Homo sapiens: one gene and its partners. The protein of the gene in region 3 interacts with the protein of the main gene of each other region in a pairwise test. Each region holds a gene or a part of one and is shown on either strand. Other genes may lie near its edges. The genes, in order: HNRNPC, ABI2, DISC1, TRIO, OLFM1, UBASH3A and BRD1.

The links.
Region 1: the proteins of DISC1 (region 3) and HNRNPC interact in binary tests that used the Homo sapiens proteins (3 or more experiments, as listed by UniProt).
Region 2: the proteins of DISC1 (region 3) and ABI2 interact in binary tests that used the Homo sapiens proteins (3 or more experiments, as listed by UniProt).
Region 4: the proteins of DISC1 (region 3) and TRIO interact in binary tests that used the Homo sapiens proteins (3 or more experiments, as listed by UniProt).
Region 5: the proteins of DISC1 (region 3) and OLFM1 interact in binary tests that used the Homo sapiens proteins (3 or more experiments, as listed by UniProt).
Region 6: the proteins of DISC1 (region 3) and UBASH3A interact in binary tests that used the Homo sapiens proteins (3 or more experiments, as listed by UniProt).
Region 7: the proteins of DISC1 (region 3) and BRD1 interact in binary tests that used the Homo sapiens proteins (3 or more experiments, as listed by UniProt).

What each region holds. Positions count from the first base shown.
Region 1 is NC_000014.9:21,224,210-21,228,449, forward strand, and holds part of HNRNPC (heterogeneous nuclear ribonucleoproteins C1/C2), read right to left. Parts: intron 1-4,240. UniProt on the Homo sapiens protein: Binds pre-mRNA and nucleates the assembly of 40S hnRNP particles. Interacts with poly-U tracts in the 3'-UTR or 5'-UTR of mRNA and modulates the stability and the level of translation of bound mRNA molecules. Single HNRNPC tetramers bind 230-240 nucleotides.
Region 2 is NC_000002.12:203,334,441-203,338,680, reverse strand, and holds part of ABI2 (abl interactor 2), read right to left. Parts: intron 1-4,240. UniProt on the Homo sapiens protein: Regulator of actin cytoskeleton dynamics underlying cell motility and adhesion. Functions as a component of the WAVE complex, which activates actin nucleating machinery Arp2/3 to drive lamellipodia formation.
Region 3 is NC_000001.11:232,007,479-232,011,718, forward strand, and holds part of DISC1 (disrupted in schizophrenia 1 protein), read left to right. Parts: intron 1-1,306; coding exon 1,307-1,571; coding exon of another isoform or gene 1,572-1,676; exon of another isoform or gene 1,677-2,176; intron 2,177-4,240. UniProt on the Homo sapiens protein: Involved in the regulation of multiple aspects of embryonic and adult neurogenesis. Required for neural progenitor proliferation in the ventrical/subventrical zone during embryonic brain development and in the adult dentate gyrus of the hippocampus.
Region 4 is NC_000005.10:14,506,842-14,510,341, reverse strand, and holds the end of TRIO (triple functional domain protein), read right to left. Parts: intron 3,221-3,500; coding exon 3,082-3,220; intron 2,463-3,081; coding exon 1,920-2,462; 3' UTR 138-1,919; downstream 1-137. UniProt on the Homo sapiens protein: Guanine nucleotide exchange factor (GEF) for RHOA and RAC1 GTPases. Involved in coordinating actin remodeling, which is necessary for cell migration and growth. Plays a key role in the regulation of neurite outgrowth and lamellipodia formation.
Region 5 is NC_000009.12:135,104,176-135,108,415, forward strand, and holds part of OLFM1 (noelin isoform 4 precursor), read left to right. Parts: intron 1-2,573; coding exon 2,574-2,680; intron 2,681-4,240. UniProt on the Homo sapiens protein: Contributes to the regulation of axonal growth in the embryonic and adult central nervous system by inhibiting interactions between RTN4R and LINGO1. Inhibits RTN4R-mediated axon growth cone collapse.
Region 6 is NC_000021.9:42,430,662-42,434,901, reverse strand, and holds part of UBASH3A (ubiquitin-associated and SH3 domain-containing protein A), read right to left. Parts: intron 2,800-4,240; coding exon 2,700-2,799; intron 71-2,699; coding exon 1-70. UniProt on the Homo sapiens protein: Interferes with CBL-mediated down-regulation and degradation of receptor-type tyrosine kinases. Promotes accumulation of activated target receptors, such as T-cell receptors, EGFR and PDGFRB, on the cell surface.
Region 7 is NC_000022.11:49,800,096-49,804,335, forward strand, and holds part of BRD1 (bromodomain-containing protein 1), read right to left. Parts: coding exon 4,109-4,240; intron 1-4,108. UniProt on the Homo sapiens protein: Scaffold subunit of various histone acetyltransferase (HAT) complexes, such as the MOZ/MORF and HBO1 complexes, that acts as a regulator of hematopoiesis.

The DNA of each region.
Region 1 (4,240 bases), on a different chromosome or scaffold from region 3:
TTGTTAATCCAAAGCCTCAGGCTTTGTGTGCCCAGAACAAAATTAGGGATATTAACTATTAATAGTTGAAGAAATGATGGTTTGACAGTTCTGTCTTGAATTTCAATGGTTTCATTTCAACTAATTTTCTCTCTCTACCAAGATACATTCCTAGAAAAGTCAGGTAGAATAAAACCAGCAGCAAAATTGCTTGTCTCCTTGAAATTCTGACAGCACAAACTCTGTGAAACCCCCCTTCATGTAACCATTAATGGCATAATCTATCATCTAGTCACGAAGACAAAATCTCAGCTTTTGACTATTATTTTCCTACAAGCACCTACTTTCATACCTTTAGTCCAACCAATCACATCAAGACCAATCTACTTCAGAAATTCTCCCAACCTCCTCTCCATTCCAACATTTACAATGTTTACCATTTAACACATCTTTTTTCCTCTAGCCACAGGCCTGTTTCTAAAATACCATCTATAGGACACAATCCCAGAACATGTAATACAAAGCCCTTTACAACTAACATTCTTTACAATTTACTTTACAGCTGGCTGCTCCTCAAACACATCAAGGCCCCTCACAACTCAATCTTTGTTACATGTGTCATCTTTGACCTGTGAGTTCTTGAAGATTTGTCTATTTCTAATGCACTGACATATTAATATATTTAGCCATGGAGTAATAACAGCACTCTGAAAACCTCTAAGAATTTCATACTCGTTACTTATATACTGTATTACTAGTCATGCACCACATACAAAATGTGCTAAGTTTAAAAAGTCCTCAGAAAGACCATTGAACTAAACCAGTCTTTTTGAACCAGGTTTCTTGCTCACCAAGTCTCCGCTGTCATAATAAAGCCTGTTATCAAACCTGCCATTTATTGGCAGTTTCTATTTCGTGTTGCCCAAAGTTCTCCAAATAAGAATTAAAGAGGCCAGGAACGATGGCTCACATCTGTAATCCCAGCACTTTGGGAGGGCGAGGTGGGCAGATCACCTGAGGTCAGGAGTTTGAGACCAGTCTGGCCAACATGGTGAAACCCCGTCTCTACTAACAATACAAAAAAAAAAAAATTAGCCACGCATGGTGGCAGGCACCTGTAACCCCAGCTAATTGGGAGGCCGATGATGCACAAGAATTACTTGAACCTGGGAGGTGGAGGTTGCAGTGAGCCGAGATCGAGCCACTGCACTCCAGCCTGGGCAATAGAGCAAGACTCTGTCTCAAAAAAAGGAAAAAAAAAAACAGAGAGAGATGAGACGACTCAAGAAAAGAGCTGACAGTAAATCAGTCTCTATGAAGGCTAGCAAGATGTCCCACAATGACTGAGAGTTCTTTTAATTCTAAAAGGTGTCCATCCTCAGGCGTAAGAGTTACCTTTTGAGGCTGGTAGCACCAGACGGGTTTCATCTATGTCTCTAACTGGCAAGTATCCTGATGTAGGTAGGGTCCACGAGATATGACAAAAAAGAATGACTGTCCATAAGACAGTGATGTATCCTTTTTCAATTGTAATGTCGCATCCATTTTCAATCAAAACGTCATTCACATACCATAAAATTCACCATTTAAAAGGGTGCCACTCCGTGGTTTTTATTAGTTCTGCAATATCACCATTATCTAATTTGAGAACAATTTCATGGGTGATCAATTATAAGGGAAAGTGGGGTTCCAATTTATTACAATCTGAAGAAAATATATCTAGTTTATATCTAGATATAGTTTTAGTATGAAAACACTGCAGTATTTGTGGCACAAATCAGAAAACACATATAGATCAAGACTTTTATGAGAATTTTTTAAAGAATTATAAGAATAGTGCCAGGTTGGGCCAGGTGCAGTGGCTCATACCTGTAATCCCAGCACTTTGGGAGGCCAAGGTGGATGGATCATGAAGTCAGGTGAGGAGTTTGAGACCAGTCTGGCCAACATACTGAAACCCCATGTCTACTAAAAATACAAAAAATCAGCTGGGTGTGGTGGTGTGCACCTGTAATCCTAGCTACTCAGGAGGCTGAGGCAGGAGAATCTCGAGAACCTGGGAGGCGGAGGTTGCAGTGAACCGAGATCTGCACCACTGCACTCCAGCCCGGGAGACAGCACGAGACTCGTTTCCAAAAGAAAAAAAAAAAAAAAAAAGAAAGAAAGAATAGTACCAGGGTAGCTGTTGACGAACATCAATTTCATGTATATGCCAGCCTACCTAAGGACTTAAAGATCTATTTTTAGAGTACTTCCCAATCTCGCTTAATTCAACAACTACAGCTTTGAATACTTGTGCATTCCCAACATTGTGATAAAAATTCACTTTTATTACAACACCTTTCGCAAAACAAAACCAGCGCCTTCAAATGAATATTAAAAAGAGGGCCAGGCGTAGTGGTTCACACATGTCATCTCAGCACTTTGCGTGGCCAAGGCAGGGAGATCCCTTGAGCCCAGGCGGGTGGACCACCTGAGGTCAAGAGGTCAAAACCGGCCTGGCCAACGTGGACAAACACTGTCTCTACTGAAAATACAAAAATTAGTTGTGTGTGGTGGTGCACACCTGTAATCCCAGCTACCTGGGAGACTGAAGCAGGAGAGTCGCCTGAACCCAGGAGGCAGAGGTTGCAGTAAGCCAAGACCAACCCACTGCACTCCAGCCTGAGTGCCAGAAAAGACTCCATCTCAAAAAAAAAAAAAAAAAGGGGGGGGGGGGACAGTGATTTTTACTCCGATTTACATATGAAGACCCAGAGCTTTCACTCAGAGCCAATTTCCCATCTTCTTTGATTAAACAATTTAACATAGTCAATGAAGTATCGCTGTTACCATTTAAAATAAAAATCTAAACCTTATGATAATGAATCTTCAGAATGACTTCTTAGAAGATATTAATACCATTTTTCTAAGTTGTTATTCCACCAGGTCATACCCAACCTATTTCCCAGGTCCAAATTGACCTAACATTTTCCAAACCAGCAAAAAACTCCTGTATCTGCCCCTCTCCCCACTAAACAAACACTCCTCCTCCTTTCACCTTCATTAACATCTATCATGTAAGACACACACTCAATTCCTCAATTCTCCAACCCAACTTGAGTAAGTTCCCATCATGTGGACACCTCCTAAAATTCATTTTCCCAACAAAGATCTCAGTACTCTAAAAGTCAGCTCTTTGCCAGCTATTACCTAGTTGCTCCACTAGTTATCAGTAATCATTATCTACTGGCTGACGTTAGAACAATAGAAGACATTACTTTTCACTGACAATAACATGCAGCAATATATCCGACAGTAACTACTAGTATCGGCTGGTGCAAAAATAATTGCGGTTTTGCTTTTTACCGTTCAAAGAAATGTCAAAAACGGAATTACTTTTGCTCAAACCTAATATATTGTTGTCTATTGAAAATCTGAAGAGGCCACCAATTTCTGTGAAGATATTTCTGCAAACGTGATTTCTTTAGATTTCTCTGCAGTATATATCTCATTGTCTCAACTAATGTTTTCCAAATTCCCTGCTCAAATTTTCAAATTTCCCCATTCACAATGTGCCTTGCCAAGAAAAGACTTTTTAATGAGAACTATTTTCAAGAAGACTGTCACTGTATACTGCTAAAACTTGATACACTCATAAAAAACATCAACTAAGAGTCCATGACATCCCTGAAATTATACCAACAAAAGTGTGAGTTTATTAAACTGGTCTGAATTGAGCCATGACAAAGAAATAGGATAATAATACACAGAAACACAACCACGTCCTTAATCTTTTATTAATGATTCTCAACTCTGACTGGACAAAAGAACACATAGAAAGCACTGAAAAATATACTAGTACTTAAGAAAGTCTGCATAAGACCAGTTGTGTAAGAATCCCTATAGGAGAAGCTGGCATGAGTATATTTTAAATGTGGTCAAGCAATTACCATGTGCAGAAAGGGTTAAAGGGCAGATGCTTCAGACAAACTCACTGGGTTTCAGTGCCTTCAAGACACCTGACCAATAATTAACCCATCTATGCCTAATGTTCCATTACTGGAATGCTAAGCTTGTCGGAGTTATTTATATCCTACTGCATTAGGTCATTACCAAGGTCTGATTGCAAAAATTCAAAAAATTGCAATTTCAGGAATAAATGGGCTGAGTTCACTAGTAATGTCCTGATTTATTTTCAACTGGAAGTTCTCCATTGATTTTTATTTTGTTTTATTTTTTGAGAAGGAGTCTCACTCTGTCACCCAGGCTGGAGTGCAGT
Region 2 (4,240 bases), on a different chromosome or scaffold from region 3:
TCAGTCCATTCTTATGATCGTATGAAGGAATACCTGAGGCTGGGTAATTTATAAAGAAAAGAGGTTTAATCGGCTCTTGGTTCTGCAGGCTTTACACAAAGCACAGTGCTGGCACGTACTTCTGGTGAGGTGTAATCATGGCAGAAGTGGAGCCAGCATGTCACATGGTGGGGGGGCTCCCAGACTAATTTTAAACAACCAGTTCTCACGTGAACCAAGCAAGAACTCACTTATCACTAAAGGGATGGTGCTACATCATTCATGAGGGATCTGCCCCCATAATCCAATTATCTCCCACCAAGACCCACCTCCAACACTGGGAATCACATTTCAACAAGAGATTTGAAGGGAACAAACATCTGACCCATACCAAAGAGTTTTATAATTTCAGATCTTACATTTAAGTCTTTAATCCATTTCTAGCTAATTTGTATGTGTGATATAACAATCAAATTTCATTCTTTTGCATGTGGATATAGTTTTCCCAATACCATTTACTGAATTATCCTTTCCCCATTGTGTACCTGGTGCCTTTATCAAAGCTTAGTTGACTGCACAGATGTGGCTACATTTCCGGGCTCCATTCTGTTCCATTAGTCTACATGTCTTTTATGCCAGTAACACACTGTTTTGATTACTATAGCTTTTTTTGAGACAGAGTCTCGCTCTGTTGCCCAGGATGGAGTGCAGTGGCATGATCTCAGCTCACTGCAACCTCCACTTCCTGGGTTCAAGCGATTCTCCCAACTCAGCCTCCTGAGTAGCTGGGACTACAGGCGTGTGCCAGCATGCCCTATAATTTTTGTATTTTTAGTAGAGATGAGGTTTCTCCACGCTGGCCAGGCTGGTCTTGAACTCCTGACCTCAGGTGATCTGGCTACCTAGGCCTCCCAAACTGCTGGGATAACAAGCATGAACCACCATGCCAGGCCTATAGCTTTGTAATATAGTTTGAAATCAGGAAGTATGATACCTCCAACTTTGTTCTTATTCAAAACTGCTTTGGCTATTCAAAGTATTTTGTGGTTTCCTATGAATTTTAGGGTTTTTCTATTTTTGTGAAAAATACCATTGGAATATTGATAGAGATTGCATTAAATCTGTAGATGGCTTTGTGTAGTATGGACATGTTAACAATATCAAATCTACCAATTCATGAGCACGGGATATCTTCCCATTTATTTGCATGTTCTTCAATTACTTTCATAAATGTCTTATAGTTTTTAGTGTACAGACCTTTCACCTCCTTGATTACATTTATTCCTAAGTATTCTATTCTTTCTGCTGTTATAAATGGAAATGTTTTCTTAATTTTTCAGATCGTTTGTAGTTAATATGTAGAAACACAACAGATTTTTGTATGTTGATCTTGTCTCCTACAACTTTACTAAATTCGTTAATTAATTCTAACAGTCTTTTGGTGGAGTCTTTAGGGTTTTGTATACATAAGGAATCATGTCATTTGCAAACAGAGACAATTTAACTTCTTCCAATTTTGATGCCTTTTGTTTATTTTTCTTTCCTAACTGGCTGGCTAGGACTTCTAGTACTTTGCAGTACTTGATTAAATAGAACTAGTGACACTGGGCACCACTGTCTTATTCCTGATCTTAGAGGAAAAGGTTTCAACTTTTCATGGTTGAGTATGATGTTAGTTGTAGGCTTGTCATATATGGCCTTTGAGACATCACTAACAAGAGAATAGCTAAAATTTTAAAACCTGACAAAACCAAATGCTGACAAAGATGAAGAACAACTGGATCTTTGCTGGTGGGAACGCAAAACGGTACCATCGTTTTTGGAAAAGAGTTTGGCAATTTGTATAAAACTAAACACACATTTACCATACGGTAATAATCCCACTATTAGATATTTATTGTCAAGGCAAAGAGAAGGCAATGTGATAGACCTGCCCAACTGCTTGTTAGGTTCAGAAAGCCTACCATTTACATGGAGGGCAGAAGGAATAGTAGTAAAAGATACAGCCCTTGTGTAAAGCAATACTAAAACAAAAGGAGCCAGGTGACTACAACATAGATATGACACTCTGTTGCGGAGGAGCCAATGCCATGCTGCAACTAAAGTCTTACAGCCTGCAGCTACTACCTAAAAGGGTACAATAGAGAGCCTCATCTCATGGGAACTAGGAGGTGATGAGGCACTGTTATCACGTACAGCCTCCTCGGCAGATGAAGAGATTGAGAAAGGGCTTCACATAAGGTCCTCGCAAACTTCCATAATCTTATATTCCAAGAGGATCACAAAGTGCTCGGCCAAGATTCAGATCAGATGCAGTTCAAGCACTGGCCTATGCAGCCTATGTGGATACATCCACTGTTACCAGGGTACAACAGTTGATCTTTTCCCTTAAATTTACCCAAAAGAGTGAAGACTTAGGTTGCACCAACACCTGTATACAAATGTTTACAGCCATATTCACCACTGCCTAAAACTAGAAACAATCCAGAAATCCATCAGTTGGTGAATGGATGAACAAATTATGATTCTTTCATACTCTAGAATATTACTCAGTAATAAGAAGGAACAAAGTACTGACAAAACACAATAACACTGATGATTTTCAAATGTATTAGGACTTCTAGTACCAAGAAGTCAAACACAAAAGGCTATATACTACATAATGCCCCTTATATGGCATTCTGGAAAAGGCAAAAACTAGAGGGACAGAAAATATATCAGTGTTTACCAAAGGCTAGTAGTGGAGGGACAGGACTGACTACAGAGGGTACAAGGAAAATTTTACATTGTGGTGGTTACATGACTATGTAAGTTTATTGTAATTCATAAACCTTTACACCTAAAAAGGGTGACTTGTACCATATATGTATTAAAACTCAATAAACCTGACTTTAAAAATCAAATGAGAAAAAATTCATGTTGTAAATGATTCAAAACAAAGCTGTTACCTCATCCAAATTTTCTACAAAGTATATTACTTAAGAAGAAAAAAGCAAAACTATGTTCCTTGCATGAATTATGCAAATATGAAAAGTACTGCAAAACTTTACAGAACATAAATGTCACCAAAAAATCAAATAGGAAAAAACTTGCAAGGTAAATTTACATGTAATTATATCCTACTTATAAAATAATTCAAGGCCAGGCATGGCGGCTGACAGGTGTAATCCCAGCACTTTGGGAAGCCAAGGCAGGAGAATTGCTTGAGCCCAGGTGTTCCAAGACCAGCCGGAGCAACATAGTGAGATCCCATTTCTAACAACAACAACAAAAAAAATTAGCTGGGCATGGTGGCACAAGCCTGTAGTCCCAGCTACTTTGGGAGCTGAAGTGTGAAGACTGTTTGAGCTTGGGAGTGCAAGCTGCAGTGACCCATAATCGTGCTACTACACTCCAGCCTGAGTGACAGAGTGAGACCCTGTCTCAAAAAATAAAATAAAATAAAGTAATAAAATAAAAATAATTCAGTGCATAGGCTCTTGCATATTCAAGTCTGTATTTCTTACATTCAGCAACTATTTAATGAGTGGCTAGTATATGGAGAACATCCTACGGCTAATGGGAAAATATAGAAATTTTTAAGAAATGACTCCATCTTCTAGGAGCTTCGTATCTGGAAGGAAACACAAAGTAAATGAAAAATCCAAAATAGAATGTGTTGCCCTACATGCTACCTCATGAATCCAATCTATTAACCAATCCCATAAAAATTCAACCATAAGCTATCAAAAGTCTACAACTAGGCCAGGCACGGTGGCTTACGCTGTAATCCCAGCACTTTGGGAGGCCGAGGCGGGCGGATCACCTAAGGTCAGGATCTCGAGACCAGCCTGGCCAATACGGTGAAACCCCGTCTCTACTAAAAATACAAAAATTAGCCAGGCGTGGTGGCGTGCACCTGTAATCCCAGCTACTCAGGAAGCTGAGACAGGAGAATTGCTTGAACCCAGGAGGCAGAGGTTGCAGTAAGCTGAGATCGCACCACTGTACTCCAGCCTGGGCGACAGAGACTCTGTCTCAAAAAAAAAAAAAATCTACAACTAGCCTAATGTAACTTTCAGAATATTCACAAGGTAGAGTCAAATGGTGTCTAGACTGGCTTTGTCTTCTCTATTGTTTTTTTCCCAGAATCTCTGGACAGTGAGTAGGGTGCTGCAAAATGGATTTGGGGTGGGTGTAAGCAAATCACAGCATATTCATCCACCAAATATATTTCATCCACCAAAAGATTACCTTACACACCCTGAAACTGCATACTATT
Region 3 (4,240 bases):
CTGCCCAGCTGGAATTTGGAGTTGCGTGGGGCCTGTAGCCCCTTTGTTTTGGCCAGTTTCTCCCATTTGGGATGGAGCATTTATCCAATGCCTGTACCCCTAATGTATCTTGGAAGTAACTAACTTGCTTTTGATTTTACAGGCTCCTAGGTGGAAGAGACTTACTTTGTCTCAGATTAGATTTTGGACTTGGAATTTTGGGCTAATGCTGGAATGGATTAAAACTTTGGGGTACTGTTGGAAAAGCATGATTGGTTTTGAAATTTGAAAGGGACTTGAGATTTGAGAGGGGCTGGGGTGAAATGATATGGTTAGGCTTTGTGTCCCCACCCAAATTTCATCTTGAATTGTAATCCCCATAATCCCCAAATGTTAAGGGAGAGACCAGGTGTAGGTAATTGAATCATGGGGGCAGTTTCCCCAGTGCTGTTCCCAGGATAGTGAGTTCTCATGAGATCTGGTGGCTTTATAAAGGGCTCTTTCCCCCTGCGTTCTGCACTTCTCCTTCCTGCCACCATGTGAAGAAGGTGCCTTGCTTCCCCTTCACCTTCTGCCATGATTGTCAGTTTCTTGAGGCCTCCCCAGCCACACTGAACTGTGAGTCAATTAAACCTCTTTCCTTTGTAAATTAACGAGTCTTGGGCAGTTCTTTTTAGCAGAATGAAAACAGACTAATACAATAGAGTCTAGCAATAGAGTGGAGAACAACATAGTTACAAGCTCTGCCCTCAGGGAAAAGAAAACAATAATCACATAAATAATTAGAATTGTCATAAATACTCTGAAATAAAAGTAAAAAATGCTAAGAGATCCATCATATTTTCCAGTTGGAAGGCAGGGAATGTTTCTCCCAAAAAGGTTATTTAAGCCGAGTTCTGAAGATAATATGATTTAGTCAGATGAAGGCCTGGTTATATGTGTGTTGATGGAGAATGGACAGAGAGAGTTGATCTAGCCTGGAAGAGTTGGACAGGTCTGAGGATTCAAAGCAAGTCAGTAGGGCTGGTAACACATATATGAGCAGAAACTGTGTTGTATTGGGCTGCTGAGTCTGGAAAAATACATAGGATTTTGGATGCCTTTGCAGACCAAGCAGCTAAGGACCAGCACATTTCATGGTGACTTGATGGTGTGCAAATTTGGTCCCTCTGATGAATCTTCTAGTTGAAATAATTTATCACTGTGAAATTAAGTCATCAAGTATAAGATGACCAGCTGACTTTTAGCCAGGTAGACAAGCTATCGACTTGGTATGATGAAACATCACTGAGTTCATTTTTATGCCTTTGTTTCCTCTCTGTCTCAGCTGCAAGTGTCCACTGCTTGGGAAAGTGTGGGAAGCTGACTTGGAAGCTTGTCGATTGCTTATCCAGAGCCTACAGCTCCAGGAAGCCAGGGGAAGCCTGTCTGTAGAAGATGAGAGGCAGATGGATGACTTAGAGGGAGCTGCTCCTCCTATTCCCCCCAGGCTCCACTCCGAGGATAAAAGGAAGACCCCTTTGAAGGTATTGGAAGAATGGAAGACTCACCTCATCCCCTCTCTGCACTGTGCTGGAGGTGAACAGAAAGAGGTCTGTCCTTTTCACATGGCCTCCAGAGGGGACCCTTATTCTAAGGGGTGCTTTGGGACCATGCTCCAAATGGGAACAATAAATATTGGGAAGGCTTCCCATTGAGCATATAAACTTTTAAAAGTTTCAATAACTCTTGAATATGATTACAAAATAAAGTAGAATTTTTGTAGAAGTTTGAAATATAGAAGAGCAAAAAAACCCAACTTTTGGCATATTTAGTTCCATTTTCATTCTAATTTAGTGGCTAGAATTAGAATATGCAGTCTAATATAGAATTACCATATATAGCATACATTATATATGTCATATATAATATAGTTATTATATTCACTATAGATTATATATGCCATACATGATATTTAACATATATACTATACATTATGTATTGTATGTCATATATGATGTTTATATATTTAGAATCTATATATTACAATATATTATTATTTATTTGAATGAAACATTCAAATATATGTATTTATCCCATTAATTGTTTTTACCAAAACCAGATCATAATGAATGTTTATAATGTTCTTCTTTCATAAACACAACTAAAGTTTGGCCTGAGATATATGTATTACAAATTAAAATATGGTTTTATTTAACTTTCTTTTTCTCTCCCCTCTTTCCTCTCTCCCTTCCCCTTCCACTCCTCACTTTCCTCCTCCCACCCTAACAAGAGTCTTTTCCATAAAAAGGCCCTAGGAAGTTTTTCCTGATTTCAGTGCCATGACCTGAGTCTTCAGAGCTCTTTGTTGGCCCAGGTTCACAGGTGTTGTGAGTGTGGAAAGGAAATAGCATGGAGAGGCTGGAGGAACTTGACACATGGCTTTCAAGTCTCATGGTTGATGTTAGATGTTAGCTGTGCTTCCTCCCTGGGTCTTTGCCAGGACTCACCACTGGTGGGTGGGGAAATTGCCACCTCCCCAGGCCAGCCCTGCCAGTCTCACATCCCATCTGCAGGACCATGGCCTTCAGAGAGCAGACATTTGTGTTCTTAGTCACTGCCTCTGGACTGCTTAGAAAATCGATCCTTGATCCTATATTTGGATTCCATGGTCTTATAAGAAAGCAACCACTGTCACTCTGCATCCTTGCTGGCCCAGTCACAGGCTCTACGTTAATTTATAGACATCTGAACTCGTTTGTTAACCCAGGTGCTACAGGTGGAATCCTCCAGCAAAGCCTGGTCTCCAATGCTCTGGGTAGAGGTGTTGAAAAGTTACCACCTGCTGCAAGTGGATGGCTTGAAAGAATATTCTGGGGTGGAGGGAAGTGCCACCTAAGCAAGGGTTTATTCCTGGGTGGAAGAAACTGCAGGCTCTGGGAATGAGTCTTTGAAGGTGTGTCTGGCTTTCCAAAGTGAGCTACCAGGAGGAGCTCGGTGTGGGGCAGTCAGAAGCCATGCCAGGTATGTGATGGAGTCCCTGGGTCATTGATTCTGCTGGAGGCCAGGACTGATTCAGCAGAGATCCCTTTCTCCTGTAGCGGAGAAAAATGAATATCTTTCCTTTACCCATCTAAAGGTTCTCAGCTGAGGCACCTATACAGACAGAGTAACAAGAGAAAAATGTACAAATGTGCTTAATATAAAATTTACATGACACAGGAGCCTGCAAAAATGAAGACCCAAAGCAACAGAAACCAGTGTATTTTTATGCTTAAGTTTGAAGAATAGCAGACAGATGTGGAGAAGTATAATTGGACAAAAGGAGTATGATTTAATGGCAATAAACTGGGGGGAGCTTAGCAAGGCCTGTTTGCTCGGATTCTTCGCTGCATCCCTGTGTCTTCAGAGATAAGGATACTCCTTTCCTTTGGGTATAGGTTGTACACTTTAAAGATGAGGGTGTTATAATCTACTTTAGAGGAAGGTCAGATAATTATTTATGGCCTGCTTCAGGAAAGAATGGCTGCAGAAGGTCAGAGAGACTTTCCTGCTTCTGCTGTTCCTCAAATGCCAAGGTGCCATATTTTGGGGTAGTGTATTCTGAACCCCATCACTCTCTCCCTCCCTTTCTCCCTCCTTCTCTGCCCTGCCCACTGAGCCCTGAGCCCTCCAGGTTCTCTGGGGACAGACTTTCCCAGGCATAGGAGGATTCGTTTTCCTGCATAGCATTATAAGCACCTGTCAATTTCACTATCTGGCTATAAGAACACAGAGCTATATTTGTTGAAAAATAGGAAGCTTGGGGTCAAGGATGAAAAAAGAGTGGAGCCTTATCCTAGGTCCTGTGGTGGCTGCTGTTTGGGTGCTCCAGGGGTCCCCCAGAAAGCCTCCCAGATCCTCTCCACCAATTGAAATGCTGAGGATGTCCTACATTTATTTGTTGCTTTCTTGGGGGTGAGTGGGTGCTTTAGAGGGGACCTTACAGCTTTTGCTGGCTTTCAGTATCATTTCCCTGTTCCTGTATCGCAGTGCTGGATTTATTTTCACAGAGAGGGCAGCCGTTCTCTGAATTCATGAGTGCCATGGATTTTAAGACAATGTTTTCTGAGAACGGCAAAATTATGGGGCCAGAAAACAGATAAATTGTTGCCAGGAAAGGGGAAGGGACTCATTACAAGAGCAACAGGAAGGAATTTGGTGCGTGGAAGTTGGGGGCGGTTGATAGAAGTATTCTCTCTCTTGATTGTGGTGGTAGTTACGTGACTGTGTGTATGTCTAA
Region 4 (3,500 bases), on a different chromosome or scaffold from region 3:
GTGTGTACAGAGGGTTCTCAATCCAGTACATTCTGCCACCTCCCGCCCACGAGAAGTCTCTGCATCAGTCTCTCCCTCAGCCATCTGTCTTTCTGATTCAACAGTGACCAATTTAAATAAAAAGCCTAACACAAAAATCAGGCAAATATGTTTAATTTTTTAAAATAACTGATGGCAAAATAAAATATTTACATCACATCATACTGTGTAAACATGTAAGGTCTCTGTACAAAGAAATATACATGCAAAATAATGTAAAAATTTAACTGAAATAATAAAAGAAACAATACACAAATAAAAATTATGAGGTTACGAATACACATCCAGTTTCGAATCCAATTTCTTTTAAAAAGTTTCTGTACAATTTTACAAGAAGAAACAAACAAAAACCCAACAAAAGAATAAATAAAATACACTGGAAGCTGCAAAGCTTAACTACGCCAGTTTATGGCTCAAGACCCAGGTGTCTGGCTGGCTTGGGAAGCGGGCTGGTCTCTTTTGTAGTGCAGTTCACACGAGAAAGATAAAAAGACATCCAGAAAACTTCGAGGGTGCCCAGAAACCCAGCCTCCTTGAGTTGAAAGGACTCCCCACACCAGTGCGAATGCTGCCACAGTGACTCGGGCATTGGGTACCAGCCGCGGGGCGGCCAGTGCTTAATCGGCTTTTATTTCTTACCAAAAGCTCAAAACCCAGCCAATTTTTATACAGAAAGTTCAACGTCAAAAAGTCTAAAAAGTAGTAAATGTCCAGACTGATTTTGGGAAAAAAAATAATACTTTGGCATTCTGAATAATAGCATAATAAATTTTAAAACATTACCCTATTATCCAGTTTTATATTCAGAGTATGAAATCACTTTTACAGTCCTCAAAACCAACAAATTTCACGAAAAGTCTCTTTGAACCGATGGCACAGGGCTACGACCCTACCCACCCACCCGCCAACCCCAACACACACACAAAACCATAAAGCTCACCATACGAAGTATGTGCTTTTTCTATATATTTATTACAGGTACAACAGAGGTCTTCATAAATAGTTGCATAAAATGTTAAAGCCACAACATTGCACATGATATGAAGTAAAACCAAAAAACCCCCAATGAGTGCATTTACAGTATTTTCATCTGACTGTGTACTGCTCCACAATCTGATTGACGGCTTGGGGCAGGAACAGGGGGAGGGGCAGTGGGGCAGGACCCAACCTGATGTCTTCATGTGATGGGAAGACCCTCGGACCCCCAGAGGAAGCCCCAGGTGGTGGGTGGGGGGTGGGTAGGGGAGGCAGGTGGGAAAATGACAGACCGAAGGCAGGAACAGTCTTATATACAAGTAAGGCCTACATTTCATCAGAGCAAAACGATTCATTCTATTTTATGCAAAAGTTTGAGGTTGAATGCACGTTTCAGAAGCCACGTCGGGCGTGAGATGCACACAGACGAGGCGCCTGGAAGCTCAGAGCCGAGTGGTCTCTGAGTCCTAGACAAGGCCATGGGAGTGGCCGCCACCTAGGTGCGTCTTCCCCAGAGACGCACAGTATCTTTGTTCATTAACACCAGTGGTTGAACATAGGCATTTTGTTTCCTTGAATAAATCTTGAAAACGTTAAATTTGCAAAATTCTATTCATGTTTGTTTAAAAAAGTTATCTTTTTATTTTTTTGCAGAAACCTGAATAAAATACTGTGATACAGCAATGCGACCTCTGCCTTGGGCAGAGTGTAAGTGACGGTCCTCCACCCCAGCGCAGCTTGCAGCTCTGTGTCCAAGCACTGCTGAGCACAGCTCACTTGGAATGCAATTTCACACGATGAACATACCGGCAGCTGATCAGTTATGTTTGCTTGTTTTCTCTTGAAAATTCAGATTAACAGCTGATTGGCAGGTGAAAGAGAATGAGAAAGAACTTCTGGATAGGTCAAACTCTAGGCAGAAGCCTGCTCTGCAGAAAGTTTTTAATGCTACGGATAGGTCGAACATCATTCTGGTGTTTGCGCCGCTCAATGAAGGAAGTCAGTCTGGACGTGTCGAGGACGCCCGTGCTTCTGCCGTTGCCGGCCTGCAGCCACTGCTCCTGGAGGGCCAGCGCAGCCGAGGGACGCTTGGCGGGGTCCTCCTGCAGGAGGAAGCACACGAACTCCTTGGCCTTCTGGCTCACTCCTTTAAAGTAGTCATCTGGGAAGCTAAAGTCTAAGCGGCAAATGTTCAGGCAGGTCTCTTCCACACTGTCATCCAGGAAGGGGGACACGCCACTAAGAAGTACGTATGTGAGCACTCCAACACTCCACGTATCCGAGGTCAGGGAGACAGGGTTCCCGAGGATGATTTCAGGGGCTGCGAATTCAGGGTTCCCCAGTAACTGGTGGATGTAGTAGGTCGTGTTGAGCTGAACAGCATCTCCAAAGTCAGCCAGTTTGATGGTTGGCTTGGCTAAACTCTCATCCACCAGGATATTCTCAGGCTGGAAATCAGAATACAACTGTCATTTTCAGACCATCCAATCTTAAGCTTACTCGTGATGATGGGCGGGACTCTATGGTGAGGTGGAAGGAATCTAGGATGTCAACTAGGACAAGCCATGCATGTGCAAAGCAGGCCGGACCACTCAGCTGGCAGCCGAGGGTGAGGAGGAAGAGATGACACAGCGGAGCTGGGACCCAGATCCACACAGGGCAGCTCTCTTTGGAGATCTAAGTGCCAAGTAGCCTAATGAAACCAGGCTGCTTTATGAAGCTGGGTGTTCATTTTCCCTCCCAGCACCAAGGGGAATGCTCTCTTTCCCGCCTAAGCTACCACTGCACCCGCCACACCCACCGGGCAAAACTCATGGGGACTTTCTGAAAGTCGTGGAAGGCTGGGAGGGCTCCGGCGTTTTACCCAGTGTGCTCCTGACCGTGTGCATCACTGAACGCAAACGCTTAGAGAGAGAGATTAGCAATCAGTGTCTGCGCTGCCCCACCCACCCTTTTTGTCCCTAGTCACTTGGGGGCTCCTGGCCTGGCTTCAGAGGGGGCTCTGTGTCCCGCATGGCCAAGCCGGTGTGCTCAGACCCCCCTTCACCTGCCCGGGGCCTCACCAACCTTTAGGTCCAGGTGTGCTATCCTGCAGTTGTGCAGGTACCGGACAGCTTCCAGAACCTCCCCCAGGTGCGCCCTGATCTTCCCTTCAGTGAGGCTTCCCCATCGCACCACGCAGTCCAGGAGGCGACCCTGGTCAGCCCTAAAGAGGCAGGAGCGGGTGACTGTTATGATGCGATTTGCTTTGAAGACCTCTTTGGGCTAGTAAGAAGTAAACATGTCGGACCTGTCACCTGTTATGAATGTGTCATCGGGATCTCAGGGCCGTGCCTCTAAGGCGTGACTAGACAAGGAGGGGGATTTTGTAAAGCTCTGTTGGGAAGATGCGAGTGGGGTACAGGGTGTCTCCATCTTAAGAGGGAAGCCGGTGGTAGAGCGGCACAGTCAAGGGTCCAAACCCGCCTGTTGCGGGGGATGGCGTG
Region 5 (4,240 bases), on a different chromosome or scaffold from region 3:
AGGAAGGGCACGTCTTTAGGGCAGAGGTGTCAGTTTGGGGCAAGCCAGTGAAGGTGGGTGGGAAGGTGGGGCTGGGGCCGGCACACCAGGTGGAGGGACAGCTGGAGCAAAGCTGCGTGAACCAGCAGGGCGGGGCTCTGGCCAGGCGGCGGAGAGGAGCCCAGCACTGACTTGCTGCCTCTGGCCTCTGCCGGCTGCCTGCAAGGTGGAGGGCAGACACCTGGTCTCCTTCCGGTAGGTCATGCGACCGGGATGAGTCTGCTGCGGGTGTGGTTCCGGGCGTTAGTGTGGGCCAGCGTCACGGAAGGCCCGGCGTGTTGACTGAGGAGGCTGAAGTGGCCAGAGCCCGTGTGCGCTGCTGGATGGAAACCCAGCATGGGGCCGCCACTCCTCTAGGCTTCTCCTTCCGGACAACTAACAGAACCACGGCGTGGAAAGTCCTCACGGGATGTTCACAGGGCCAAGGCACTGTCTTAGGGGACACCAGCCTCTGGATGGCAGGGAGGGCTGGAGAGGGGCTGTGAAGGGCTTCTCCCAGCGCCCACCCAGTGCAGAGGGAGCTGCTGTCTCCCCCGAAGCCCAGGGCCCCCCAGCAGCCGGAGGGTGAGCCCAGCCATGGCTCCTCCCTCCCACCTCCTGCCTCCTGCTCCTCCAGGGCCTTAGTGAAGCCGCCCTGAGCTCCACCTCTCCGCCAGCGAGTTGCACTGGGGTGAAAATCTGGGCCGGGCTCTCCTGGAAGAGGAGTCTCTTGTGAGACTTCTCAGACCCCCCACATCTTCTTACTTCTCGTCCCCATAGACGCCGGTCAGCTGTGGCCATCTCCTCTCCATCCCTTTCTTCTGCTGCTTCTCCTCCCACAGATGGGGAGCATGGCCTGGCCCAGAGCCCGTGTGGACCACGGCCGAGAAGACCCTGGCAGCCTCTCACCCGGCCCCACTGCCAGGAAGCCTCCAGCCATGAGGGGACAATATTTACTTGGGAAAGCACATAATTCCTCCTGAAAGTAGGAATGGGGAACTACGCACGGAGGAGGAAGGGAGGGAAGGGCTGTGACATTTCTTCTTCCAATCGGGGCAGAGGCGGCAGCCCGGGAGCCAGGTTGCCGGGGCCTTGGAGCAATGCAGCCCGACTCGATGGGAATTTGGGGGCAAACCCAGTCTTTTTCTGTGGGCAGTGGGCTCCTCGTCCCTCTGAAAGCCCTGGTGCCCGGATGCACGCTCTCCCACCAACCCACAGAATCGGAGACGCCTCCATGCCGGCAGGGCCGGGAGCGTTCCTCTTTCTGGTCTTGTGTGATGCCAGTAACAGGCCACTTCCAGTTGGGAGAGAGTGGGAGGCACCCTGAGACCCGCGCTGAGCATGGGAGTGGCCAGGCCGCGTCCTCCCGGGGGCCAGCCTGGAGCCTGCCCCACCCTGCTTGCCGACAGGATTATCCTGGCTGAGCCGAGGTCCGGGCGCACTCACCCGCAGTCTTCCCCCACACGTGGATGGCCTCTGAACTCGTGTGCTCGTGCAAGCCCACCGAGGGTGCCACGCAGACCTAGGAGGTCACAGGCGGGCTTGGCCGGGAGGGACAGGGCAGGGTGCGGGGACTTGTGGTGGAGGGGCCCTTCCTCTACCCTCCCCAGGAAAGCCACCCACTTCCCATCCAGGGTCCCTGTTAGAATCAGGAGCGTTTGGCCCTTCAGAGGGCGGCCGAGGCTCGTGCATTCTGGAAGAGCTGCGTGGCTGCGCAGACACACCGGCCTCCGGGCAGGAGGAGTTCTGTTCCTGTGCAGTGGGTGTGGAAGCCGCCCTGAGCCCTCGGGGGTGTGGGGGGCTCCAGCCTCAGTCCAAATCACCGGGTGGCCCGGGTGTGTCCCTCCTCACCTCCATGGTCCTCTGTGAGACGGGAGGGCTGCTGAGATCACATCCAGGATCCCATCCGCCCTGGTGCGCTCCAGCTTGGGCTCCTCCCACTGGCAGAAGCAACCGGCTCACGCCTGTGGGAGAAGCGCGCAGGCTCTTCCTGCGGGAAGGCAGCTGTGGCCTTTGTCCCGGGTCAGTTCCGGGGCGGCTGGTGGTGCTGCTGCTCCATCGTGGGACAGGGCCTGCCTGGATGCAGTGTCTCACACTGGGCCTGACTGTGCCCCACGCGGGCTGGGCTGTCAGGGCATGACCTCTAATGCCCTTGGGGGTGGAGCCGCTGCGTTCCCATCTCCAAGAGAAGAAAATTGAGTCTTGGCAAAGCTGACCCCCTCTCCTAGAGGTGCTGCTCCAGCACCCCCATCCCCAGGCCATGGGTCCAGCAGGCTGAGGAGGCGTGAAGCCTGGGAGGGCGGCCGTCTGCCCACGGCTCTTCCCTGCTATCCTGGCCACAGCTGCTCTGTTTTGGGGAGGAGGTGGCTTTTCCGAGAGTGGGGGAGTTGTCTGTGAAAACAAGGGCGTGAGCAGCTTTCCACAGTACCCCAGACCCCGAGGGCAAGAGGAGAAGCCGCCACATGGCACGTGTGCTCTGGGCAGTCGAGGTCAGGGTCATCACCGCGGGCCGGGGCCCCCGCCCTCCCTCTCCTGACCTGCGTGCTCTTTTCCAGCTTGCGGGAAGTTGACGGGCATCAGTGACCCCGTGACTGTCAAGACCTCCGGCTCGAGGTTCGGATCCTGGATGACAGACCCTCTCGCCCCTGAAGGCGATAACCGGGTGAGTGTCCCCTTATGTCATAGGGGGTCATTTGGGCAAGGGCGCTCTCGGACACCTGGTGGGCCCCAGACATGGGTACAAGCCACGCCCACCCTCCAGGGCCTATGGACTGGGCAGCTTGGTGCCTGGGGGCGTTTGTTCCTGGAAGACTTTCGGGAGGGACCCAGGCCTCTATGCTAATCCAGAGCTGTAGATCATGGGCCAGGGAGTGACATGAGGTTGATGGTATCCCATGACATGGCTGTAGACCCCTTCAAGGCCTCCTCCCCGGCCCGGTGGGCTGGGCTGGGCTGGGCTGGGCTGGGCTGGGCTGGGCTGGTGCCCCAAGTCCATTTCTCTGGAGCCGAAACCCAGCCCTGACTTTTCCGGTCCTTGCATCTGCTTCAGGAAGAGAATTCATTAGGCCTTTCTTGTTTTAATGACATCTCATTTGTATTTCATTTGCCATTCCTTTCATGGCTGATGGAGACTCATGTTCCTTTTGATTTAGGAAAGAGGCCATGTTCTTTTTTCCCAGGCTTTTCCCCGCTGGGTGAAACCTCAGAAGAGGAGAGAGAAACAGGCATCATATTTGCCTTTATCTGGGGGGCTGGGTTTTATGTTCGAGCCCCTTTGAAAAATGGGGAGGTGAGGGTGGCTGCCCGACTGATGGTGAGGCCCGGCCTCGCTCGGCCCCTGGGCCCCAGACCCCTGTATACAGGCAGCATGGGCTTGTAGACTCCCTCCAAAGTGAGCACCCTCTGAAGGCTCTCGATGGGGGAGGGAAGCTGTCAGGGCTTCGCTGTCCCTTGATTTGCAAACTGACCTCTGGCTGCCAGAGTGGGCATTTCTCACCCAGCAACCCCTTCCTTCAGGGGTTTGCAGGACACTTAGAAAATAAACACTTAAAAACAAACAACCCAGCTCTGCCCTGGGCCGACTGAGAAAGGCCCTTTGAAATGTGAGATCCTCTAAGCTTTATCTGGAGCGGGTTTGAAGGAAGGGATGGACCCAGCTCTCTCCCCTCTGATTTCTGATCTCTTTGCCTCCCTCCTTCACCATTGCCACCATTTCCACGAAATCTCTTATATTTAAAACATGGGCGGTACGGCCTCTGGCACACTCCTTCCTTCCAGGAAGATGGCTGGGGAGGGGAGGGGGACTGGCAGACTTGCTAGAGCCTGTTGCATGTGTCTTGATCCCCCAGCCTCGCATGGGAGTGGCCCCCGCCCCCATCTGGAAGGGCTGGCCAGACTGCAGAGCCGGGATACAATTGGTGTTGGGTGTTTGTCAGGGAGGTTTTTCTGTCCTGTTTTCTAAATTGTGACAGCTGAGGCTTGGAAGTTTTCTAACAATTTAATTAGCTGTGAAGACTCTGACCACTCTTTTATTCCACATCCCACCTGGAAAACCCCACTTATGTTCAGAGTTAGGAACTTGCTCCTGCCACAGATGTTTTTGTAATGATCATAATACAGAAGAAAACAAGGTGATGCTGGCAGGCACTTAGAAAGCAGGCCCGGGCACAGTGGCTCACACCTGTAATCCCAGCACTTTGGGAGGCTGAGGCGGGCGGATCAC
Region 6 (4,240 bases), on a different chromosome or scaffold from region 3:
AAGTCTTTGATCCCACGACTCCGTCTTGGCAGACTGCAGGGGAAATTCAGGTCTGGCCTGTAGTATTTCCCTGAAGTATAAATAAGCATCAGACGTTCAGTTTCATCAAGTTAGTACAGATTTGTTCCACAAAACTCCCAAGACCAAGACCCACTCTAACAGCAATGTTATTATTGAAATTATTGTCAACTGTGTTGTTTCTGAACATTCTCTGCAACGTGGCTTCAATTTGAGAAGAAAGTGCTGCTCAGCTGTGCACACAACATTTTCTCAAATGCAGACAACTTAGGTTTCAGCCCCAGGAACTATGCAACCCTCTTTGTCCTCCCAAAATGCCCCATGAAGATTCACTCTTACATTTTCCTGATGAAGAACCTGATAAAGTGTCTCTATGACTAGTTTAGTGTAACTCGGTAAGAATCTGAAGTTGGCATCAATGATCCATCCCCCTAGCTTTAAACGTATCCTTCTTGCTCAGGGGACAGAGTGCTTGAGCTGGAGATGCCTGTGTTGTGCATTCTTTAGTCAATTGCTTGAAGCCAGGCTGGAAGTGGGCTCACTGGGACTGTCTCCCACCAGAGGCTGCCCGGTGCCAGGGTTCACGTGGAGTTTGACCTTGAGTTCTAAGATCTGACAGTCTGGTAGCAAATCCTGGCATCACCATCTCCTCACTGTGCAGCCAGAAATAAATGACTTCATCTCTCTTATCAGTAAAAAACAGGGAAAGAGTAGCGATTGCGAGGTGTCAGTGAGGTAACACCCATAGCCCAGAGTCTGACTCAAGAGGGAGTGGTCAACGAGTCGGGGCACTGGTCTCATGTCACCACGTCAGGATGACTGATTATCCTCACACAGGACACCACGACACACTGCTCCCTCCAGTGCACTCTGGTTTGCCTTCACATTCTCCAAAGGGACCCCAAGCCTCCTGGTTATTAGGAGGTTCCAGCAGCCACACTGACCTTCCTGAGACCTGCTCTGCCATACATAGCAGGCCCTGCCCTTTGCACCCCAGAATATGCCAGGCCCCTTCATCCTGGCCCACAGCCTTGCACAAACCCAGAGTCAGGGGGCAGTGGGGGGCAGCAGGGGTCAGCGGGGGGCAATTTTTCATGCCTGCATTTTAGTTTCCATATAGGAGTTTTCTGAAGACTCCCTCCCTGGGATTTCCATGGGCAGAGACTCTTGTTTGAACACTGCATTTTAGAGGTGTTTATTCAATGCCAACATTAGCTCTTGGGAAAGGCAGTTTTAAAATCAGAGAGAAAGTCCATCAATTTCATTGTGTTCTCAAAGGCATCTGTGATCCCCCTCTAAAATGTCAAGACACTCCATTTAGGTATTTTGCTGTCATTGACACTTCAGCTGTGATCACTCTGGGGGCAGAGGGCAGAGCTCAGGAGAGGACAAGGATGTGGGGCAAGGTCAGGTCCTGATGGGAGCAGAGTCTGTGTGGAATATGGGGTGAGGTGAGGGGCCCTGTGAGGATGTGGGTGCCTGGGCCAAAAGTGAGCTGAGCTGGGGAGAGGCCAGTAGAGCCCCCCAAATCTCCCTTGTGTTCCCTGAGGTTGGTCACCTTGGGGGAGGACGTGGCTATACCTCCTTGTGATTTATTAAACCCTGCAATATACAAAATTCAGACAAACTAGATGTAATTCTTCACTTTATCAAGGGCCTCTCTACCTTGGGAAAAGATCCACCAGGAGTTTCCTTTCAGATGGGGATTTCCAGTGCCTTTAAAATATTTTCCCTTATAAGTGACTTGATCTTTTGTCCAGATGACCAAATATTTTTTCTTTTTCTATGAAGTTCAATAACTATTTTTGGTGTTGATTGTTTTGTATTGGTTCTCCCCACCATGGACAAGGTGTGTCAGTTCAATCTATAGCTTCAGTAATTCAATAGCTAAAAAAACTGTTTTATTGAAAAAAAGTTTCTTATATGTTTGTTAATGCATCCTGATAGCCACCTATTGTCTTATTGTTGCTTTAAGCTCTTGTATCTTTACTTGATCTTGTTTTATAGAGGTGACCATATTATTAGCTCTGTGAGTTCTTGGAAATATGCTTGATCATGATGTTATCTGCTCAGAATCTTTTCTGGTGTGTGATTGTCATCTGCCAATGGTTTTCCCTACTCATTTACCACTTTCTTGGGTCTGCTGGGCTTCTGGAGGGGGATCCCAAAAGGGTTCGGCTAACCTAGCAACTGTGAATTGATTTTGTCACTACATTCAATGCCTTAATTTATGTAATGGGTCATGGCTTAGAAATTGTGACACTACAGGCTTCCTATTAGGAGATTAGCATTGATGTGGACATTGATCATCAATACAGAGGTTGGCTTGTGGGTATGTGTATTTATAAGCACTATTCTTACTTCCTGGCATTCAGAGGAGAAAAGCTGGGGTGTGCAAGAGGCATGTTCAAGAATACGTCCATCTGTTAAGCAGCATAGCCAAAAATTACATCAGTTAAGATTAGGTTGGAGAGGTTCCAACACAGACACTCAAATGCATACATGGAACACCCCTGGAGGAAGATGTAGCAGGCACGTTTTCCACACATACAGTCTACACATGGTCATTCTACAGAATGGTGCCTCAGGGGATCTGGTGCCATGTAAGGTCATTAAGAAGGAGATCTCATTGGTTAGATCTACAGTGTTTCTGTCCGTAGACCCGCCTGAGTGTGACCTACCATCAGGAGTGGAGCATTGCTGCAGCCATGCCTTCCCGAAGATCTGATCCACTCTCTCCCCGTGGCGAACCACCAGCACGCTCTTCCTTGCAACGGTAGCCTGGGGGGTGGGGCAGGAAGCAAGGCACATGCAGTTTAACATCCAACTCACTGGACTTGCACCAATGGCAGCTCTCCCAGTCACCCAGCAACTGCGAGGGAATCTTTTCCTTCGTTAGTCAATAGCTCAGCCCATTTTGCCCAAATCATTAGAATGAAAGAGGACATGAAATTGACAATCTCTTCAATTTCTTCCAATGTTTTATTTTCTGGGCATTCTAACATCAAGAAAATGAAAAGAGACAGGATTGGCCCCTATCATGACACATCCGTTTTTCTACTTTTCTGTCTTTTCTAAGTCCTTATCATTCCCATAGAGACGTCTTAGGACATTATCCCTATCTATATTATAATATGTATTGTTATAGTATAGATTACCTATCTATATATCTAGTCTCCTCTCTTGCTGGCACACTTCTTCTGAGAAACCCTCCAGGACTGCCCTGGTGTTGACCTGTTGAGGGGCCGTCCTTTTATGGCTCCCAGGTATGAATTCTGCTTCTGAGCACCAAGGGGAGAAGCCCTCATCCATCCCCTTGCTGTTTTCCCATAGCTGGTCATTCTCTGTTTGGCTGAATGCTAAAGGAAAACAGTACTTTATAGTTTATTTACTTCTTCTCGGCATGAGACTGGCCTTGGCGGTGGCCAGCAGCTTCGAGCCAGGGACAGCAGCTCTCTGGCACCTTCCTCCCCAGCCTCAGGCAGCCGCAGGATGGCCTTGGAGCCTTGCAGTTACAGGGCTCACGCCCGCCCTCTTTCTGGGGAGCCTGTGCTTTGGGGAAGTAGCCCAAAGGTCATGCTTGGGGCAGCGAGGCTGGCTACCCTTTGGGAGGGGCCTCCACTGTGTGGGATGGTGTTGTGGGGGGCTCTGTCCTCAGGGGCTAGGCCACCCTTCTCCCCATGCTGTGCAGGGCTGATCAAGTTGAGGGACTGGCCTTGAGAGGAACCCACAGCAAATGAGATGAAGAGAGTGAATGAGAGCTGAGGATGCCCCCCCTGGGACCAGAGAGCAGAGTGCTAGGGGCCGAGCCAGCTAGAGGCCACCAGGACAGCTGCGTGGAGCATAAGCCCTGCACCAGGACCCTGGAGGGAGACACCAGGCTCGGCTGCTTCCCTGGAGGGCACTAATGTGCCAGCTGACATCGGCCCTTCACCTACATTCCCAGCCCCAGAGCCAGGCCCAGGCTATCCAGGGGGGTCCATTTCAGAGCAAGAGGTGGGGAACCCTGCAGCAACACAGGCCCAGTGGTGCTGCCCTCTGGCACCCAGGACTCATGCCTCAACCTCCCTGTGACATGGCACCGCAGGGGGGAGCATGTCACATGCTGGTCCATGAAGCTGCAGTCCACAGCATCCCTGCTTTAGGGAGCTGCAGGTCTCCCTGGGCCAAGGGATGAACATGGAAAGATGAGTCATTAACAGAGATGGTGGGGGCAGAGCGA
Region 7 (4,240 bases), on a different chromosome or scaffold from region 3:
ACGCCTCTGTCCCCGGGTTCCCACCTGCCCACCTCAGGGTACTGTCATAGCTTTTCAAAGGACCGAGGGTGTGAAGGCAAAGACTGCTGGACTACAAGATGCAAGGACCCCGGACTCCAAACTGCTCAGAAAAGGAGGCTCAAGGAGGGAGGCCGAGCCCCGCACCCCCACCCCCAAGGCCAGGCCTCTCCATGGCGAGGCAGAGCGTTGCTGCGCTGATGTCCCCTGAAGTGAGGATCTCTGGGTTTTCCTCAATGCTGCTGAACACCCTCAGGCAGGAAATCGGGGCTAAGAGTAACAAGATCCACATCAACTCAAGCAAAGGCAGGAAAATGTGGGCTCCAAAAACCAAGCTCCCCGGAGCATCTGAGTATTGCCTGTCCCTCAGCTTGCAATCGACACTTCTGAAAACCTCGGCCAAAAGGACATTTGGCCTGGGAATCTGTTACGAAGCGGAAGAAATCTCCTCATCACCAGGAAGCCCTTTATCACGCACTGGCTGCTAAGCAAACTTACTAGTCTGCTCCCCAACCTGGTTTAACAAACGCCATCGGCAGTGGCAGGGGCCCCGTTGACAGCACCTGGGCCCAAGGTCCCATGACACATGCAGCCTCATCCACTCAGAAGGATCAAGGTTCCTTACTCGGCTCTCAAGGGCTCGATATTTCCCATGTAAAAATCAACAGTGGGAGGCTCCACGAGAAAGGACAGAAGTGAAGAAGCACTCAGGCATCCCCACTGCCGGGAAGAAGCTGAGCGCCTCCGCGTCCATTCCAGACACATGGGGGAGACACAGGGCAGGGCTAGGCGACGGTCAGGTTAAAATCGCCTCTGCTGGGAGGACAGGCCAGCTCCTGGGGTGAGGGCCCACAGTGTTACAGAGTGGCCGACCCCAGGCCTCCTGGCAACAGCACCCAGCTCCTGCCACTGGGCCCAATGCCGCCAGCAGGTGCGTGGGACTGGCAGAGGCCACACACGCAGCACAGCAAGGACGATGTGGGCAGCAGCGCCCAGCATGCCACAGGACAGACACTGGGAAAGCTGCAGGATGCGCTCCCAGGACAGGAAGGGTGGGCCACGGGAGCAGGAGACAGTGGGACGCCACCAGCATACACACAAATCGCTGCTCACCCTTTATAAAGCTAAGCTGCCGCCCCCGTTCTCCCTGCGGCCTTCAACGGCCACACACACCAGAACAAAAACCAGGGCCTATATGCGCAGCCAGCACAGACCCGCCATCGCTGCAGCACCCTCGGCGCCTGCTGGCCTCTCAAGAGACCCCGTCCAGTTCATCCACCTGCCCCCACCACAGGGTCAGGCTGGGGCAGGTACACAGAGACACAGAGGAATCAAATGCATCAGGTACTTCCAAAGCTTCAAAACCATGAAACCACACCAAGCCGTGGCCATCCCTGGCCAGGAGAAGGCAGAAGCACAGTCTCTCCCAATAGCCCGTTCACACAGAGGCAGGTTTCCAGGCTCTCCACGCCGACTGCTCTGCTGCGGCTCAAGTCCAGGCAGCTCCTTCTGCTCCTTCCCAGGTGACTTCGAGAAGCTGCCCCCTCTGCCAGAAGAGCTGCTCTGGCCGGGCTGTGGGGATGTTCTCTCCTTACAAACGTATTCTGCACACAACAGGACGTGAGGCCTAACAGGCAGCGATGAAGCAGAGGGGGCCCAGCTGGCAGGTTCCAGCGGGTCACCTCTTCTTTGCAACCCTCCCCCTTCCCTTGCCTGGCTCCACCACGCCCCAGGCCACCCCCAGCTGCCTGGGTCCCCGTGGCCCCTGCCCACTGGCCCACGTGTCCTGCTACTGCAGGGATTCTGGCCCTCGTGTCCCAGCTTATGAGAGTAGAAATGATGATTCCCACCGCTGGACGTCCCGTTTGGCCACATCCATGCCCACTTTCCATGGAATCTGCCCTTCAACAGCTCCTCTGTGACTTACCTGGAGTTCTGTCCAGCCCCGAGATAAGACCCAAGATCTGAACCCTCAACTTCCTCCCAAAAAAGCCTCTCTTCCATTCCCCAACATCGCAGGGGCGGAGACCAATGCCTCCACTCTCTTCCTTTCCCCAACATCGCGGGGGCCGAGACCAATGCCTCCACTCTCTTCCTTTCCCCAACATCGCGGGGGCCGAGACCAATGCCTCCACTCTCTTCCTTTCCCCAACATCGCGGGGGCCGAGACCAATGCCTCCACTCTCTTCCATTCCCCAACATCGCGGGGGCCGAGACCAATGCCTCCACTCTCTTCCTTTCCCCAACATCGCGGGGGCCGAGACCAATGCCTCCACTCTCTTCCTTTCCCCAACATCGCGGGGGCCGAGACCAATGCCTCCACTCTCTTCCTTTCCCCAACATCGCGGGGGCCGAGACCAATGCCTCCACTCTCTTCCATTCCCCAACATCGCAGGGGCCGAGACCAATGCCTCCACTCTCTTCCTTTCCCCAACATCGCGGGGGCCGAGACCAATGCCTCCACTCTCTTCCTTTCCCCAACATCGCGGGGGCCGAGACCAATGCCTCCACTCTCTTCCTTTCCCCAACATCGCGGGGGCCGAGACCAATGCCTCCACTCTCTTCCTTTCCCCAACATCGCGGGGGCCGAGACCAATGCCTCCAGCCCCCAGAGCTTCCCGCCGCTCAGCCACTTCCTGACTCTGGCCTCTTAAGAGCCCCCCAAACCGTGCTGTCCTTTCCAGGAGCCCTGGAGGCTACGAGGTGAGGACAGAGGAGAGATGGAAAGCCAAGTCACATCATGGAACGGAAGATGCGGTTAACTCATTCAACAGCCAAAAGACATTCACTGAAGCCTCAACTCTGTGGACACGTGAGGATCTCACTTGGAGAGGGGCTGGCTCACAGACCTGCCCGGGGAGCCCCAAGTTCCATGGACAGACACACAGTGGGGCAACCCAGGTGGACGGCACGGGAGACCTGGAATATTCCACAGCCAAGACGCACCAAGGCCGTCAGAAAACTTTGGACCCCACCACACCAAATCAGACCCACAAACCACCACCTGCCAGACCAGAGCACCAGACTCTGTAGTTCCCTGGAGCACAAGGCAGCCACGGCAGGTGACTGAACAGGGCTCACGCTGCAGAGGCAGAGTCTGCGAGGCAGAGACAGCACCGGCCACCGCACCACCGCACGGGGACCCAACCGTGAACCCTGTAGACTCAAGCTTCCTGTGAGCAAGTCACCACCTCACAGCAGAGCAGGATGGTTTCGCTTCGTGCCCAGGATGGCAGTGAAAAGCACCATGAGGAAATTCCAAGAGGCACTCAGGCCACGCGACGCCAGCAGCAGACAGCTCTTCCAAAAGACCAGCGGCTCCTCACTAGGCAGCGTGGGCAGAGGGCGCTGGCCGCAGGTCCTGGGCCGTGTGCAGAGCTGCTTGTGTTTTCAATTACTTTTGTGCATCTCACAGAAGCTACTTCACTCTGTAAACCCATTTTTTCAGAACTGTTTCACAGTATCAGATGAGTCTATAAACTCAAACCTACTATCAAAATGTAAGAGTTTGGGTTTGTTCTTTTAAAAAGGAAAAGTCCTGCTCCTTCCCTCCCACTCTCTCAGCTCTCTCGAGCCCTCCCCACCCCACCACAGTCCCAGCTAAACCAACCTTCAGAGCAAGGCCCTCGAAATAAACCACTCCTCACATATTTCCAAAACCCACCCTCCAGGCCCAGCACACAGACCCCCACCCACATGGCCCGGGTGTGCTCACCGGGTCCCACTCCTGCTGTCCCCAGCCCGGACGCTCATGCAGCCACAGCATAACACATCCCTGAGCATCCCCAGTCCCCAGAGCTGGCCACTGCCCATCAGCGTGTGTGCGGGCAGGGCAGGGCGGGGGAGCGCAACTCAAAACGGAAGAAACACCCAGTGACAGGCATGGATGAGAATCACCCCCCGAGTCGCAGATCCAGAGCCCAGTGCACCCGACTCCTCCTACAGCTCCAGGGCTGGACGAGACGGAGGCTTCCCAACGGGGAGCCTGAGCCCAGGGGGCAGCACCGTGACCAGCCTGAACCAGGTGCCCTCTCCCTGGAGGGTGGGGGTGAGAGACGCAGAAAGGCTGTGGGGGCCACGAGCCACGTACCTGCTGTGAGCTTCGCTGAGACTGCAGGCTGGACTGCAGCCGCCGCAGCAGGGGGGCCCCGTTCCTGGACAGCCGCTTGAGCAGCCAGTAGCTGTGGGCTCGCTCCACAAACTGCTTCTTCCGCTGAATGGC